Regions from separate parts of the Homo sapiens genome. Here region 1 is linked to region 2. The links come from fine-mapping of genetic effects on gene expression. A gene starts in region 2. The other region holds a variant in brackets. All regions are shown on one strand. Distances are between the middles of the regions.

Region 1 (8,300 bases), 42 kb after region 2:
GGGATGATTCTCATTCAGCCTGCCCTGGGGCACTGTTGAGGAGCCAGAGGGTGGGCAGTGCTTGGCCAGCTTCTACCTGGATGCCTTCTGGAGGCTTGAGAGGAACTGCGTGGAGATACTCAGGCGTGGGTTGAAGAAGTGGTCTTCAGCTTCAGAGGCCTCCACGTCTCCCAGAGCTGCGGGGAAGAGCTCTAGGGGAAGATCCCGAGGGGACCCTCATAACCCTTCCCGCCGAGCAGCCCTGGCCCTAGGCCAGCCCACAGCCCAGCGGGGCACTCCCCAGAAACCCTTATGTACAGACACAGGGTACGAGCAGGGGCAGTGGGTGAGGAGGCATCGTGAGGCTCAGGTCAAGAGTGAAGCAGTGGGCCGGGCACGGTGGCTCACGCCTGTAATCCCAGCACTTTGGGAGGCCAAGGCGGGCAGATCATCTGAGGCAGGAGTTTGAGACCAGTCTGGCCAACATGGTGAAACCTCATCTCTACTAAAAATACAAAAAATTAGCAGGGCGTGGTTGTGGATGCCTATAATCCCAGCTACTCAGGAGGCTGAGGCAGGAGAATTGCTTGAACCAGGGAGTCGGAGGTTGCAGTGAGCCAAGATTGGGCCACCGCACTCCAGCCTGGCAACAGAGCGAGACTCCGTCTCAAAAAAAACGAAGCAGTTGCTCTCCACTCACCCTCCTGGCCCTGCTGGGGAGCCAACTCCAGGGACGCCAATGCTGTGCCCAGGCTGCACAGACGGCCTCGGCAGGTGTGGGTGAGGCAGGGCCCTACCTCTGCAGGGGGACTCAGTCAGTGTCTCAAAGTGGTGGCGGAGGAACTTCTCCTGCTCCGGAGTCTGGGGTAGGGAGCTGCTGGGGACGCTGGGTCCCTCGGGCAGGGACAGCTCATCTTCTGTGGGACCTGCGCATCCTGACAGGGAAGGAGGGGAGGGACAAGAGGAGCCAACACCATGAGTCACAGCAGACGCCACCTGAAATGGAGAAAGCGGGCCCCACCCATCCCTGCCCTGTTGCCCGCAGGCTGAGAAGCAGGGATCCCCGTCTTCCAGGCTCAGTGGGCTCCAAGTGCAGGGCCTGTGCTTAGACATTGTGACTGGCCCTAAGCCAGGCCCGAGCAGCGAGTCCCCTGCGTGTCTGGCCCCTGCTTACCTGGGAAATGGGGCAGCGACGTGGCAAACCGAGGGGCAGGGTCAGGAGGCGGAGCTGGGGAGTGGATGGCTGCGAAGCTGCACTCCAGGTCGGCCTCTGACTCCCCCGAGTCTGAAGGACAGAGTCGGGGTCAGGAGCCCACAGCCTGACCATTCTGGTGAGCCAGGGCCAGGGCTACCCTTCCCTGGGCTCAGTTTCCCCATCTGGAGGAGGGATGGTAAGAGCAGCTGCCCCCCATTTTATGAATAAGGGAAGTTCCACATCAAGGAGGTGGCAGAGCTGGGCTCTCAGCTGTAGGCAGCTGGGCCCAGAATCCTCAGGCAGCAGCAGGGACCACATGTGTCTTCCTCGACAGACTCTGAGCTTCAGTACTGGGTCAAAGTCACCATCGGTGCCCAGAAAGGGGCTTGGCTGAACGCACAGACTGTCACAGGGTCCCTGCCTGCCCTGCACTCACCCTCAGGCGGGCTCTGGTCCTTTGGGCTGTCGGAGGACACCCTGAGGTAGGAGTCGCCCTGCTGGTCTCCAGGCCCGGCCTCCACCTCCTTCCTGCAATACTGGCTGCAGTGCCAGTGGGGGCAGAGAGGGAACAAGGACTTCAGCTGGAGACTCAACAGCTAGCCCCACCCGGAGCCCCTAGGCACCTGTACCCGCTGCTCCTGCAGGAGCACTGCGACAGCCTCCCCGCCTCCTCCAAATGCCCCCTCCTTCCCCCAGGTCAGGCCCTCCTGTACCCCACCTGGAACCAGGGAACTAAGGCTGGGCTCCTGCCCCATCCAGGCCTCAACTGTCCCCACTCCCACAAGCCCACTGGGAAGGCAGAGAGCACTTCTTCCAGGATGCAGCTATCAGCTGGGGGTTCCTCCAACTAAGGCTCCCTTGGTGGAAAGGACACCCACCTGTCTGTCCCTGTGACTGTCACTTCTGCCTCCAGAGAGTAGAGGATGAGCTCACTGGCCTCAGATGATTCCTTCTGCTGGGGCAGGAAGGAGGGGTGCCCGCGGCCAGCTTCCTGGGGACTCTCTGACTATGGGGAAGACAGCACAGCCATTCTGAGGCAGGCATGGCTGGGGCCACCAACAGTGCGCCAGGAACCATGCCAGCAGCCCCACTGCTGGAGGCTGTGAACCAGGGCCTGTGCCATGCCCTCCACTCGCAACCAGCTTGTCCTGGTCTGCCCCTGCATTATCAGTCCCTTTACAGATGAGGAAGAGGTGTGGCACCAAAAATAGGAGGCCCAACCCTCTACGTGTCTATTTATATCAAGTTCAAGAATAGGAAACCCAGTCCTTGGTGAGAGGTCAGAACACTGGTTATCCTGGTGCGGGGACCTGACTGGGAAGGGCAGAAGGGGGTTTCTATGAGGTAGAAAACACTCCAGATTTTGCCCAGGGTAGTGGACACACGTGAATTACACAGATAGTTCATCAAGCTGTATACCTAAAATCTGTGCATGTTACTGGATGTATATTATACCACAATGAAGATGACAAATTATAGGATAGGATAAAAATGAATTTTGTTTGGAAAATAGTAGAGAAAGAGCTAAAGTTGCACGGGCACCTCTAAGAGCCCAGGCCCTATACTTAAGCATGGATTCCTGTAAAAGCCCTCTGGGGCAGAAGAGATTGTTATTACCATTTAAAAACAAAACAAACAAAAAAATTTAAAAAATATTTTTGTAGAGGTGGGATCTTGCTACGTTGCCTAGGCTGGCCTTGAACTCCTCAAGTGATCGTTAAGTAATCCTCCTGCCTTGGCCTCCCCAAATGCTGGGATTACAGGTGTTAGCCACTGCCCCTGACCCCATTATGACTACTTTTTAGAAGACTGAAGCCCAAAGAGGTAAGCCTCTTACTCCAGGTCACACAACAGGAATGGGTAGGGTCAGGGCTCGATCTACCCAAATGTCCCCCACTTGGGTACAAGCCTGCTCTAGCATCCAAGCTCTTAACCCCCAAGTGACCCACTTTCCAAAGACTCCCTGTCTGCCTTGGGAAGTCTTGCTGTGCAACAGACCTGGGGCTCACCCTCCTGCCCTTCACCATCTCATGTAATCCTCCCTGCCCCCATGGAGTGGGAGTCAGCCTAAGGCGCCAGGCCCTGGGGCCGTCACGGTGCCGGGGCTATGGGCCAGGCTGCGGTGGAAGTGTGTACCTCACTCAGCAGGCTGGCCAGGCTCTGTGGCTCCAGTGAATCCAGAATGGAGTTCTCCAGACTCTCGGGCTTCATGGGGGTAAAGTAGCAATCCAGGTCCTGGGCATCCAGGATGGTCTTGAGGGGCTCTTGGCCGGCCCGCTCTGCCCAGCGGCCGTGGGGCTGGTAGCTGCGCTTGGCGTGGAAGGCC[A/G]AGCCATCTGCCACATCATCGTCCCCTAGCTTGAAGGATATCGGACAGTCAGGCAACTGGCTGAGTGCTCACTCACTGCAGGGAGCGACACGGACATTTCACACAGCCCATCTGGACTCTTGGCTTTCAATACCATTCAGAAACAACTTCCAGGTACATATCTCCAGCGTGAACCTTTCTCTGTTTTTTTTTTTTTTTTTTTTTTTGAGACGAAGTCTTGCTCTGTCTCCCAGGCTGGAGTGCAGTGGCGTGACCTTGGCTCACTGCAACCTCCACCTCTCAGTTTCAAGCAATTCTCCTGTCTCAGCCTCCAGAGTAGCTGGGATTACAGGTGCCCACCACCACACCTGGCTAATTTTTGTATTTTTAGTAGAGATGGGGTTTTGCCATGTTGGCCAGGCTGGTCTCAAACTGCTGACCTCAAGTGATCCGCCCGCCTCGGCTTCCCAAAGTACTGGGATTACAGGCATGAGCCACTGCGCCCAGCCCATTTTGTTGGTTTTTGGTAGAGGTGGACTCTCACTATGTTGCTCAGGCTGGTCTCAAACCCTTGGGCTCAAGGAATCCTGTTTCGGCCTCCCAAAGTGCTGGGAATGCCCAGCTGGGATTCATGAACTTTTCTCTGAAACTTCAGAATTGCACATGTGACTGCTCTACATTTCTGTATGGATGTCTGGTAGGTATTTCAAAGTTAACATGCTGACAACTCAACTCATTTCCTCTGCACAAACCTGCTCCTCCTAAAGATTCCCTGTTTCAGTTGTTTTTTCCAGTTACTCATGCCCCAACCTTGGGATCATCCTTCATTCACCTCTCTTATTCTGTCTCTTATAATCCACATTGTCTTTCTTTTTTTTTTTTTTTGAGAGGGAGTCTCACTCTGTCGCCAGGCTGGAGTGCAGTGGCATGATTTCGGTTCACTGTAACCTCTGCCTCCTGGGTTCAAGTGATTCTCCTGCCTCAGCCTTACCAGTAGTTGGGACTATAGGCATGCACCACCATGCCCAGCTAATTTTTGTATTTTTAGTAGAGACGGGGTTTTACCATGTTGACCGGGATGATCTTGATCTCTTGACCTTGGATTACACCCGCCTTGGCCTCCCAAAGTGCTGGGATTACAGGCGTGAGCCACCGCACCCGGTCTCTTTTTCTTTTTTTTTTTTTAAGAGACAAGGTCTCGTTCTGCCATCCAAGCTGGAGTGCAGTAGCACGATCACTGCAGCCTCCAACTCCTGGGCTGAAGTGATCCTCCTGCCTCAGGCTCCTGAGTAGCTGGGACTATGGGTGTGCACCACCATGCCTGGCTATTTTTAATCTTTTGTAGAGATGGGAGTCTCATTATGTTGCCTAAGCTGGTCTCGAGCTCCTGGCCTCGTGGCTTTTACACGTATAGGCTGTTATGACTAGAACATTCGTCCCAGTATCTGCCTGTCTCACTTGCTTCAACTCTGCTCAAACATCATTTTCCCAATGAGGCCTTTCCTGTTTACTTAAAACTGACACCCCCCAACACTCCTTATTTTCTTTTTTATTTTTATTTTTTTTATGAGACAAAGTGTTGGCTCTGTTGCTCATGCTGGAGTGCTGTGGAGTGCAGCTCCCTGCATCCTCGACCTCCCTGGCCCAAACAATCCTCCCACTTCAGCCTCCTGAGTACCTGGGACTACAGGTATGCACCACCATGCCTGGCTAATTTTTTTATTTTTTGTAGAGATGGGGTCTCACTATATTGCTCAGGCTGGTCTTGAACTCCTGGGCTCAAGTGATCAACCTGCCTTGGCCTCCCAAAGTGCTGGGATCACAGGCATGAACCACCGTGCTGGGCCCCTGTTCTTTTTCTCTTTTTTGAGACAGGATCTCACTCTGTTGCCCACGCTGGAGTGTAGTAGTGGTGCCTTCTCAGTTCCCTACAGCCTCAACCTCCTGGGCTCAAGTGATCCTCCCACTTCAGCCTCCTGAGTAGCTGGGACCACAGACACGTATCACTGCACCTGGCTGACGTATTTTCCTTCTTGATTCTTTTCCCTCCACAGCACTTATCAGCACCCAACCTACTACGTCATTTACTTATTTAATGGGGATATTGTTCCTCGCCCACACAGGCAAGTGAGCCTGTGAAGGGAGAGACTTTTGTTTCCCTTGCTCACTGTTGTGTCCCTGACATCCAGAACAATGCCTGGCAGAGAGCACTGATCATGAACAAAGGGCTGTCTCACTGAGCCTGGAAGGATGACAGGGCTTCTCCAGGGAAAAGAGGGACATGGAAAGGAAAAAGGGCTTCCAGAAGGCAGAGCTGGGGAGGCGTTTCCTCTGCCAGCCCCTGAGCAACCCTCTCCCTGAAGACTTACCAGCCGCTTTGCCCACAGTGGCAGCTTGCCGTTGGTTAGCAGGCAACGAGGATCTGGAAAGACACAGAATCCATGAAAAGAGGACAAACAACCCAACAAACAGGCCACATACATAACCGGGCAGTCCCCAAAGAGGCAACACCACAACCCAGAAGTCAGAAGGCTCAACAGCACCGGGGGTTAGGGAAATGCAAACTTAAACCGTGGGATGCGATATTTGACTCACGAGACTGACCGAGGTGAAAAAGCTTAATACTACCAAAGGATGGCAGGAAAAGTGTGGGGACAATGGAGAGCCTAATGCAATGCAGGGTGGGGCAGTAACTGGGTTTGGAGAACTCTTGGGGTTCTCTTTTTTTTTCTTTTTTTGAGACGGAGTCTCGCTCTGTTGCCCAGGCTGGAGTGCAGTGGCGCGATCTCGGCTCACTGCAACCTCCACCTCCCGGGTTCATGCCATTCTCCTGCCTCAGCCTCCCAAGTAGCTGGGACTACAGGTGCCCGCCACCATGCCCGGCTAATTTTTTTTTTTTGTATTTTTAGTAGAGACGGGGTTTCACCATGTTAGCCAGGATGGTCTCGATCTCCTGAACTCGTGATCCGCTCGCCTCGGCCTCCCAAAGTGCTGGGATTACAGGTGTGAGCCACTGCGCCCAGCCGGGGTTCTCTTTTAAAATAAAGGCCAGGCATACTGGCTCAAGCCTGTAATCCCACCACTTTGAGAGGTCGAGGTGGGAGGATACTTCAGGCCAGGGGTTTGAGACCAGCCTGGGCAACACAGTGAGACCTTGTCTCTACACACACCATCCCCTGATACACACATATTTAGCTGGGTGTGGGAGCTTGAGCCTGTGGTCCCAGCTACTCCACAGGCTAAGGAGGGAAAATTGCTTGAGCCCAGGAGGTCAAGGCTACAGTGAGCTATGATTGTGCTATTGAACTCCAGCCTGGGCAACAAAAATAGTGAAATAAAATAATAAAACAACTTTTTTAAAGTAAAATAAAATAACTCCAGGATCCAGTGGTGCTACTCCTCAGACTCTCTCCTGGAGAAGTCCTCACATTTCGAGGAGGCTTAGGAGTGGTCTCCACTCCATAGCCTCATTAACAGTGATGTGCAATCAGGAAAAACCTAAATGGCCACCTGGAGGGGAATAACTTAAAATTTCGCAGGCGTCTGCTTTGTATTCACCAACATACAGGTAGATGAGAGACTTTGCAGAGGAAAAAGATTCCGGACAATATCCGCAACATAATTCAATTTATTTTTACTTGTTCATTTATTTTTTGAGACGGAGTCTTGCTTTGTCACCCAGGCTGGAGTGCAGTGGCGCAGTCTCAGCTCACTGCAACCTCCGTCTCCCAGGTTCAAGCAATTCTCCTGTCTCAGCTTCCCAAGTAGCTGCTATTACAGGCGCACGCCATCACGCCCAGCTAATTTTTGTATTTTTAGCAGACATGGGGTTTCACCATGTTGGCCAGGCTGGTCTCGAACTCCTGACCTCAGGTGATCCACCCGCCTCGGCCTCCCTGAGTGCTGGGATTACAGGCGTGAGCTACCACACCCGGCCTCAAACACATCTTTGATGCCTGGTCAGGTGGTGTGAGTGGATGGAGCTGACTACAGTCTCTGCCCTCAGAAGTGATCACATGCTGAGATGTGGACAGCTACAACAACTGGCTCAGAAGTGGGTACAGCAGATACCAGAAACATGAGCCACACAACCCTAAGACTCTGCTTGAGCTACTATAGGAAAGAGGTGTTCTATTCTCTATGGAGTTTTATAAGCCTGTAGTTGCTGGGGGTATCTTTTCCCCTAGTAAAGGGACAGTCTGTCCATCAGCAAAGCCAACATGAAGAAAAGCAGAGCCAAAAGATACAAAAAAAAATCTTCCTTTTAACATCATCTGTCTATCTGGATCTAGCCATGCTGAAAGCTAATCCTCTCCAATTTTCAGGCACCAAAAAATCCTCTTCCTGACTTAAGCCTGGTTGCTTTTATACTGAAAGAGTCTTGACTGATATGATTATTGAGTTTCTTTCTTTTTCTACAGACAGGATCTCACTCTATTATTCAGGCTGGAGTGCAGTGGTGCAATCATAGCTCATTATAACATGGAATTCCTGGGCTCAAGCGATCTTCCTGCCTCAGCCTTTCAGGTAGCTGGGACTATAGGTGTGCACCACCAGGCCTGGCTAATTTTTTTCTTTTTGTAGGAACGGGGTCTTGGTACGTGCCAGGCTGGTCTCAAACTCCTGGCCTCAAGTGATCCTCCTGCCTCAGCCTCCCATGTAGTTGGGACTACAGATGTGTGCCACTATGCCTGGCTAATTTCTTTAAAAAATTTTTTTTTTGCATAGATGGGCTCTCGCTATGTTGCCCAGGCTGGTCTCGACCTCCTGGCCTCAAGTGACCCTCCCATTTCAGCCTCCCAAAGTGCTAAAATTCCAGGT
Region 2 (8,323 bases):
GTAACTCAATTTCATAAAAATGTTAGGATATGTGAAAAACAAGTGTGTGACCAGGCATGGTGGTTCATGCCTGTAATCCCAGCACTTTGGGAAGCCAAGGCAGGTGGATCGCTTGAACTCAGGATCCACCTGATGTCCACTCAGGAACATCACTTTCTCACTAAATCCTTGGGACACCAGTTCTACCAGGACTATTTCCAGAGAAGAAAACATTCAAAGCTGAAAACTCTACCCAAGATCATAGTTAAGAGCTAATGTGTACAGACCACATACTATGCGCTATACACTGTGCTAAACCTTTTGGATGTAGTTCCGATTCGGTATCACCATTATCACTCACCCATTTTACAGAGAGAGAAACTGAGGCACAGAGCGGTTCAATAACCTGGTTAAGAGGTAGAGTTGGGATTGCTTTGCTCTATGCAATATGTCTGTGATTACATGACATGTATATTATGTATGTGTCTGTTTGCCCTATGTGTTAAATGTGCATGAGGCCAGGCGCAGTGTCTCAAGCTTGTAATCCCAACACTTTGGGAGGCCAAGGCGGAAGGATTGCTTAAGGTCTGGAGTTTGAGACTTGCCAGGTCAATATAGTGAAAGCTTTTCTCTATAAAATATTTTTTAAAACAAAAATAAATAAAAATATGCATGTATCCAAGATCAGCTAATGGCTGGCCCATGTACAGATAACACGTGTGTCCCTGTGCACACTGCCTCATACACCTTCACGTATGTGGGTGTGCTCTTAGGTGTGTGTGTGTGTATATGCGCATGTGGCTGTTATAAACGTGGGTTCTCAAGCCCAAAAGACCTGAGTCCACAGACTGGAGTGCAGTGACGAAACCTCTGCTCACTGCAACCTCCGCCTCCCGGGTTCAAGCAATTCTCCTGCTTGAGTAGCTGGGACTCCCGAGTAGCTGGGACTACAGGCGTGCACCACCACGCCCAGCTAATTTTTGTTATTGTTATTTTTCTTTTTTTTTCTTTTTTTTTTTTTTTGAGACGGAGTCTCTCTCTGTCGCCTAGGCTGGAGTGCAGTGGCGCGATCTCGGCTCACTGCAAAGCTCCGCCTCCCAGGTTCACGCCATTCTCCTGCCTCAGCCTCCCGAGTAGCTGGGACTACAGGCGCTCACCACTGCACCCGGCTAATTTTTTTGTATTTTTAGTAGAGACAGGGTTTCACCGTGTTAGCCAGGATGGTCTCGATCTCCTGACCTCGTGATCCGCCCGCCTCGGCCTCCCAAAGTGCTGGGATTACAGGCGTGAGCCACGGCGCCCGGCCTATTTTTATTTTTATTTTTATTTTATTTTTTGAGACAGAGTCTGGCTCTGTCGCCCAGGCTGGAGTGCAGTGGCGCGATCTCGGCTCACTGCAAGCTCCTCCTCTCGGGTTCACGCCATTCTCCTGCTTCAGCCTCCCGAATAGCTGGGACTACAGGCGCCCGCCACTACGCCCGGCTAATTTTTTTTTTTTTTTTGGTAGAGACAGGGTTTCACTGTGTTAGCCAGGATGGTCTCAATCTCCTGATCTCGTGATCCGCCCGCCTCGGCCTCCCAAAGTGCTGGGATTACAGGTGTGAGCCACCGTGCCTGGCCAATTTTTGTATTTTTAATAGAGATGGGGTTTCACCATGTTGGCCAGGCTGGTCTCAAACTCCTGACCTCAGGTGATCTGCCCACCTTAGCCTCCCAAAGTGTTGGGATTACAGGCATGAGCCACCATGCCTGACCTTTATCTATAACTTGAGACAAATGACTGCTTCTTTCAGGAAACTGAGCCTCAGTTTCCTCTTCTGTAAAATGGAATATAATAATTGTGCCTGTCCAACAGGGTGGTTATGACGGTTCGGTCACTTTATATAATTAAAGTGCCAGCTGTGACAGCTGGCATTGTTATGATTTACCGCCACATGTCTGCAGGTGACTGTGTTCTGATGAATGCATTTCCACATCTGTGGATATGAAAGCTACATGTTGGCTTCCCAAACATACTCTCAAAAAACTCTCTGTCCACCCAGGGCCTCTCCCACACTGCCCCCAAGGATACATCCATCACGGCCACCATGCTGCGACATGTGTCAATGCCAAAACCATCAGTCTTCAGATCAGGGTCTGTGGGTAACAGGTTGAAAGTCAGAGGCCAGAGGTCAAATCCTCTCTGACCCCTCTGCCTCTGAATCTACCCTATTCCTTAACCCCGGTCACTTACGTCGTGTCACAACCTTATTGAGAATGTTCATGAGTTCTGTGGCGCTGACCTCCATGTCCTGCGGGCGGAAGTTAGGGGCAGGTCAGGGGTGACTGAAAGGGGTCTGAGAATGTCATGGAGAATGGGAACACTGGGATTGTCATGGTCAAGGGTGTGTGTGCAAGGGCAGCCACAAGGGAAGGGATGGAACGGTTAGGACGGGGCCAGGGACCCCAGGTTACTTACATCTCCAGCCAGCTGGGCAAAGAGTCTCCGGAACTGCCGGACCTCCTCACTCTCGTTGGCCTCAATGTTGGAGTAATGTGTGCGTGGGGGCTGCAAAGGGAGGAGAGCTCAGAGCAGGGGGAGGGGAACCCGGCCAGGACGGCTCCCCAAACCCAGGTACCCTGGGTGGGGAAGTCAGAGTGGGCTGGGCAGCTTGATGAGGAAAAGAATGAGGGGTGGTAGTGAATGGGGTGCACGTATGTGGGGCATGGCTAAGACCCATGGCGAAGCTGCAGACACGGCATGGGAGGAACTGGCAGAGGAATTTCACAAGAAGGGGAGGAAGGTGGGGCTTCTCTACAGGAACAGGGATGGGACCTCGAAGAGGCCTTGGCAGGAGAAGGGGGTCTGGTTGCAGAGGGGGCTTACCGGGGGCTCCGGGTTGTACTGCGCAGCCGCCTCGCTGCGAAGAGATAAGGGGGAGGGGTTAGTGCCAGGGGCGGGGCCTCCAACGGGCAGCACTACAGAACCATCAGCCCCAACGCTCCAGACCCCAGCCGTTATCTTCCTTACTTGGTTGCTGTGCCTTTCATTTGTTCTTGTCCTCATCTGTCCCAATCCACACTGCCCTGGTCGTGCCCCTCTTCTCCCTTCCTCAGGCCAACCCCACCCTCGAGGAAACCCAGAGACCGGTCCCCTGGGAGGCTCCCCTCCTGCCAGGCACACCTACCCAGTGGCAGATTTCAGTCATCTTGGCCACCCTAAACCTAAAAAATCCCACGTAGAATCAAAAGACCCCGCCCCTTGGAGGGCTCACTTCATAGAGGCTCTGCCCCAGCTTCCCAAGGCCTTATCCTCCTCAGGTGCCATCTGCCCAAGACCCTACTCCATGGCCCGCTTCCTAAATGCCCGTCTTCCCAACATCCTACCCCAGCCATTGGTCCCCGCCCCTTCAAGGGATCACTGCTAAGTGGCCGTGGCTAATTAAGCCAACCTGCCCTATCCCTACCAGGGCATTTTTCTCCATTAATCCAGCCAGTTCCCAGCAAGCCCAGCCCATTCTGGGCCATTTACCCTACCCCATTAGGTCTTGCTTCCTCCTGGGCTCACCTCCTCATTAACCCACCTAAAACCTCTGACCACACTCATAAGTCAAGCCCCTTCCGTAAAATGTCACTCAGACGCATTGGCTCCGCACCTTTAACGTTCATCTCCAGGTTAGCCAATGCAGGCTGAGCCCAGACCCATAAGCCCCACCCGCCAAAACTCCACATCAGTCCCCTCAGGACCACATTGTCCTGGTCCCACACAATCAGACTACTCCCATATCAAGCACCGCCCCCAATGACTGATATCCGCCTCACTGGGGTCCACCCCCTTACAGCAGAACTCTCAAACCAGGCCTCCCCGGCCTAATTCATGTACCCAGGTTAGCCTCCAGGTTAATCCTATTCTATTTTTAGACCACGCCCCTCCCAGACCACGCCTCACTGAGGCTCCTCCCATTCCCAGGCCCCGCCCCTCTGATAGTCTCCGCCTTACCTGATGGCGCTGATGACTCCGCCTAGGATGCGCATGGCCGTTCCACCGCCACCGCCGCCTCCACCACCGCCGCCGCCGCCGCCGCCGCCGCCGCCGCCCCCGGCCCCGCTGATCAGGCCTCCAAGCACATTTCCCAGGCCCCCACCCAGGCCCCCGCCTCCCCCGCCGCCGCCGCCGCCGCCCTTCAAGAACGAGTTAACCAGGAACATGGCTGCGACTCACTGCTGGGGGGAAAAAAGGGGACCAGTGGGTGCTTCGCCCCTGAGCCCACACCCTCCCTTCAAACACGCATTTCCGGCAGCTGGACCTGGGAGGAATCTGAAGCCTCCGGGTGGGGGTCTGAGTTTGCGAGGGCGGGTTGTCCGCGGATGGGTGGGGCAGGTATGGGGGATCAGGTTTGCAACCTCCTCAGGTCTAAAAGGCACCCGTGGGGCTTGAGGGAGCCTGGACTGGGTGCACGCGTGAAGGGGAGGGTGCAGATCTGGTGGGGGTTCTCTTGGTGGGGACCCCAAGTTGGCGTAAGGCGTTCCCGACATGTCTGGGCGCTAGAATGTGAGATCCAGAGCCCAGCCTGAATGTAGAGGTCCTTGGCAGGTCATGGGCGCGGAGCAAACATCCACGGCCTAAAGGGCCCCAGGGCGGGGTTTAGGAAATCCCAAATGTGGGCTTGAGAATTTAGGTATTCCCAGCGGCAGGATTCCAGTGTCACCTCTGGCTCTGTGGGCTCGGGTCTAAGATCGTGGCTGTGAGCTCTGGGTTCCCGGACAATGGGGTTCCCCGCTGGAACTGGGGGCACAGATCTACGATCGCGGTTCAGGACACCCCAAGGAAGAATTCACAGGGTATCTCTGAAACCTATGGGCCTGTATTTTGGATCATGAGACAGAGGGTGGAGAAGGGTCCCCGGGACGGCATAAAAGGAGATCGAACAGGTCTGAGGGTTCGAATCTGAGACCATGGATCTGGGGGGCTCCTGAGGCCGAGACTTCACGGTTTCGCCGGGTCTGGGGGCCGCCAAAGTCGGAGTTGCGGGGTGCGGAGGGGGTACGGGCCGGGCGCTTACCGCCGCACACGTCCGGAGTTCTGGGAGTCGGTTCCACTGCCGCTCCCGGGCCTCCCGCAGCGTCCGGCTCCGGAGGGCGGGGCCGGTGACTCAGGCCGCAACTCTCGGGTCGGACACTGCACCGCGGCCCTGCTGTCGCCCGCGCGGTCCTAGAGCCGAAGCGGACATTGCGCATGCGCACCCCACACCGCCCGGCTAGCTGGATCCAGGTCTGGGCCCCGCCCTACGCGTTTCCAGCGCCGGAGGTCTTAATCCCGCCCTGACTCGGTAGGCGGGGGTCTTCCCGACACCCCTCAGGTCTGGGTGGAGGCACCCGCGGACGAGAACTCGGAGGGGACCCACCCCCCGAGTGTCGTAGTGTGAATTTTCACCCTAGGGCATGCCAATATCCTTCCAGGGTGGCGGTTTTCGGTCCGCTCACTAAGGGACTCCGCACGGGCCCTCTGCAGGTGTTGTCGCGACAAACACCTCCTGGAGGCCTGGAGTATGGTTTGACTCACACGCTGGGGGACAGTCGCCCGTGTCTGTGGCGAGGATTGAGGCTGGATTGCCTTTCCCAGTGCCTGCAGCAGCCCGGATGGCAGTCAAACCGCAGGCAGCGCCTGCGCCGCCTCCCAGGCGAACCTTACCACGCCCCCGCCCCAGTCAGGGGCCACCAGAATCATTCCTTCCTGGACTGGCCCAAAGAGTGTCCTCAGTATGCTAGCCTCTAAAGAAGGCCCCAGACACAGGAAGATTCCTTTGGCCACGGCCTGGTTTCTTTATTTACTTAAAAAATATTATTGTTTTTACATAATAGAGACGGAGGTCTCGCTATGTTGCCCAGGCTGCTCTTGAACTCCGGGCCTCAAGCCGTCCTCCTGCCTCAGCCTCCCAAAGTACTGTGAGGTACTGGGATTACAGGTATGGGCTACCGGCCTTTTTTTGATTTAATTTAATTTTTTACAATAATATTTTTACATAGCCTGGTTTCTTTTCTTTTCTTTTCTTTTTTTTTTTTTTTGTTTTGAGACAGCGTCTTGCTCTGTTGCCCAGGCTGGGGTGCAGTGGCGCCATCTCAGCTCACTGCAGTCTCTGCCTCCCAGGTTCAAGCGATTCTCCTGCCTCAGCCTCCCGAGTAGCTGGGATTACAGGCATGCACCACCACACCCAGCTAATTTTTGTATTTTTAGTAGAGACGGGGTTTCACCATGTTGGCCAGGCTGGTCTCAAACTCCTGATCTTAGGTGATCCACCTGCCTCGGCCTGCCAAAGTGCTAGGATTACAGGCATGAGCCACGGGAGTCCAGTACTTTTTCAGGACTCATCGGGGGGAGCTAAATCTGGCCCCCAGGCAGGCTGGCTGGCTCTTATCCCCTACCCTGCAGGCTGGCTAGGCTTGAGTTGAATCCTGGCTGTGCCCTGTAATAACTGCACAACCCCAAAAGAGTGGCTTGATATTCCTGAGCAGCGATTTTCTCATCTGTAAAATGGGAACATGGGTTGCTCCATACCACTAGGCCCCCTATCAAAATTAAATGATATCTGCAGCAATACTGATTATTAAAAAAAAAACTTAAGTGGTGGCTGGGTGAAGTGGTTCATGCCTGTATTCCCTGCATTTTGGGAGGCTGAGGCAGGAGGATCTCTTGAGCCCAGGAGTTTGACTCCAGCCTGGGCAATATAGTGAGACCTTGTCTCTACAAATAATACAGAAATTAGCTGAATGTGGTGGCATGCGCCTAGTCCCAGCTACTCTAGAGACTGAGGTGGGGGGATCACCAGAGCCCAGGAGGCGGGGGTTGCAGTGAGCCGAGATCATGCCACTGCACTACAATCTGGGTGACAGAGCGAGACTCTGTCTCAAATAAATACTGGGCACAGTGGCTCATGCCAATAACCCCAGGACTTTGGGATGCTGAGGCGGGCAGATCACCTGAGGTCGGGAGTTCGAGACCAGTCTGACTAACATGGAGAAACCCTGTCTCTACTAAAAAATACAAAATTAGCCGGATGTGGTGGTGCATACCTGTAATCCCAGCTACTCGGGAGGCTGAGACAGGAGAATCGCTTGAACCCAGTAGGCAGAGGTTTCAGTGAGCCAAGATTGCACCATTGCACTCCAGCCTGGGCAACAAGAGTGAAACTCCGTCTCCAATAAATAAATAAATAAATTGGTGATAAATGCTTTGTAAATGCCCCCATTAGCTCTGTGTCTGTGCTCATGCTGTTCCCTCAGCCTCGAGGCCAGCTGTATTCCTCAGCTGGTAGACTCTTAGTCTTCCTTAAATAGTACAAAAACAGGCCAGGTGTGGTGGCTCACGCCTGTAATCCCAGCACTTTGGGAGGCCGAGGTGGGCAGATCACTGAGGTCAGGAGTTTGGGACCACCCTGACTAACATGGTGAAATCCTGTTTCTACTAAAAATACAAAAAATCAGCCAGGCGTGGTGGCGTGTGCCTGTAATCCCAGCTACTCGGGAGGCTGAGGCAGGAGAATCGCTTGAACCCGGGAGGCAGAGGTTGCAGTGACTCGAGATCGTGCCATTGCACTCTAGCTTGGGCAACAAGAGCGAAACTGTCTCAAAAAAAAAAAAAAGATACAAAAACAAGTAACCATCAACCACTCCTCCAAGTGCTTGACGTCCATCAGTTCCCTTGTTCTCCTAACAGCCCTGTGACATAGATGCTATTTATTATCCCCATTTTACAGATAAGTAAACCGACTCTGAGGTTAAACCCAAGCAGTCACTCTCCCTAGCCTGTATCCTTAACCACTACCCTTATGCGTTAATAATATAATTAATATAATAGGTCAAATAACAACATCACAACAGACAAAACTAGTTGCAGCTGATGTTTCCTGAGGCCTTGCTGGGGCCAGGCCAAGGTAACTGCTACACAAGCCTTGTCTGCAGGGCAGGAGAGAGAATGGAGATTCTGAAAGGCAGGGTCACGGAGGGTGGCAGAACCAGATCTGAACCCGGGCTTGGCACAGATCTTTTGGTGATGACTAATCCAGATTCCCTTCTCACCACACCCCTCCCTGCCAGACTGACTGCTCCAGCTCTCTGCCCTCTCCCGAGGCTCACTTGCTGCCAGCCCTCATGCCCTCGGCCAGGAACTCCCCTGCTGCCTTTTTTTTTCTGGCCTGATTGTGTAGCTACTCAGGCTGCAGGTGTCACCTCAGGAGTCATCTCTTCCAGAAAGACCTCCCTGTCTCCACCCAACCTGAGACTAGGTGAGGCTTCCAGTTATATGCTTTCAAAATGACTTGTACTTTCTCATGGCACTCACTGCCAATCGTAACCATATTGTCATCTA

Evidence for each region.
Region 1: its variant is fine-mapped to the expression of CAPNS1 in whole blood (INTERVAL, PIP 0.98).

The regions. Positions count from the first base shown.
Region 1 is chr19:36,094,628-36,102,927 of GRCh38, reverse strand. WDR62 (WD repeat domain 62) reads right to left here. Exons shown (of 32, transcript NM_001083961.2): 21 at 5,849-5,901; 22 at 3,311-3,529; 23 at 2,053-2,180; 24 at 1,611-1,714; 25 at 1,154-1,264; 26 at 777-914; 27 at 77-191. Among named protein-coding and RNA genes, the nearest start is that of OVOL3, 12 kb to the left of the region's middle. RefSeq lists an enhancer at 1,820-2,321. The variant A/G (reference allele first, on the strand shown) is at 3,501.
Region 2 is chr19:36,136,856-36,145,178 of GRCh38, reverse strand. It overlaps CAPNS1 (calpain small subunit 1), which reads right to left and starts at 5,113. Exons shown (of 11, transcript NM_001749.4): 1 at 5,022-5,113; 2 at 3,959-4,182; 3 at 2,846-2,879; 4 at 2,438-2,527; 5 at 2,213-2,270; 6 at 2,051-2,115. The coding sequence starts at 4,167. It overlaps LOC105372385 (a long non-coding RNA gene), which reads left to right and starts at 5,197. Exons shown (of 3, transcript XR_935954.3): 1 at 5,197-5,288. RefSeq lists enhancers at 4,647-4,706, 4,797-4,846.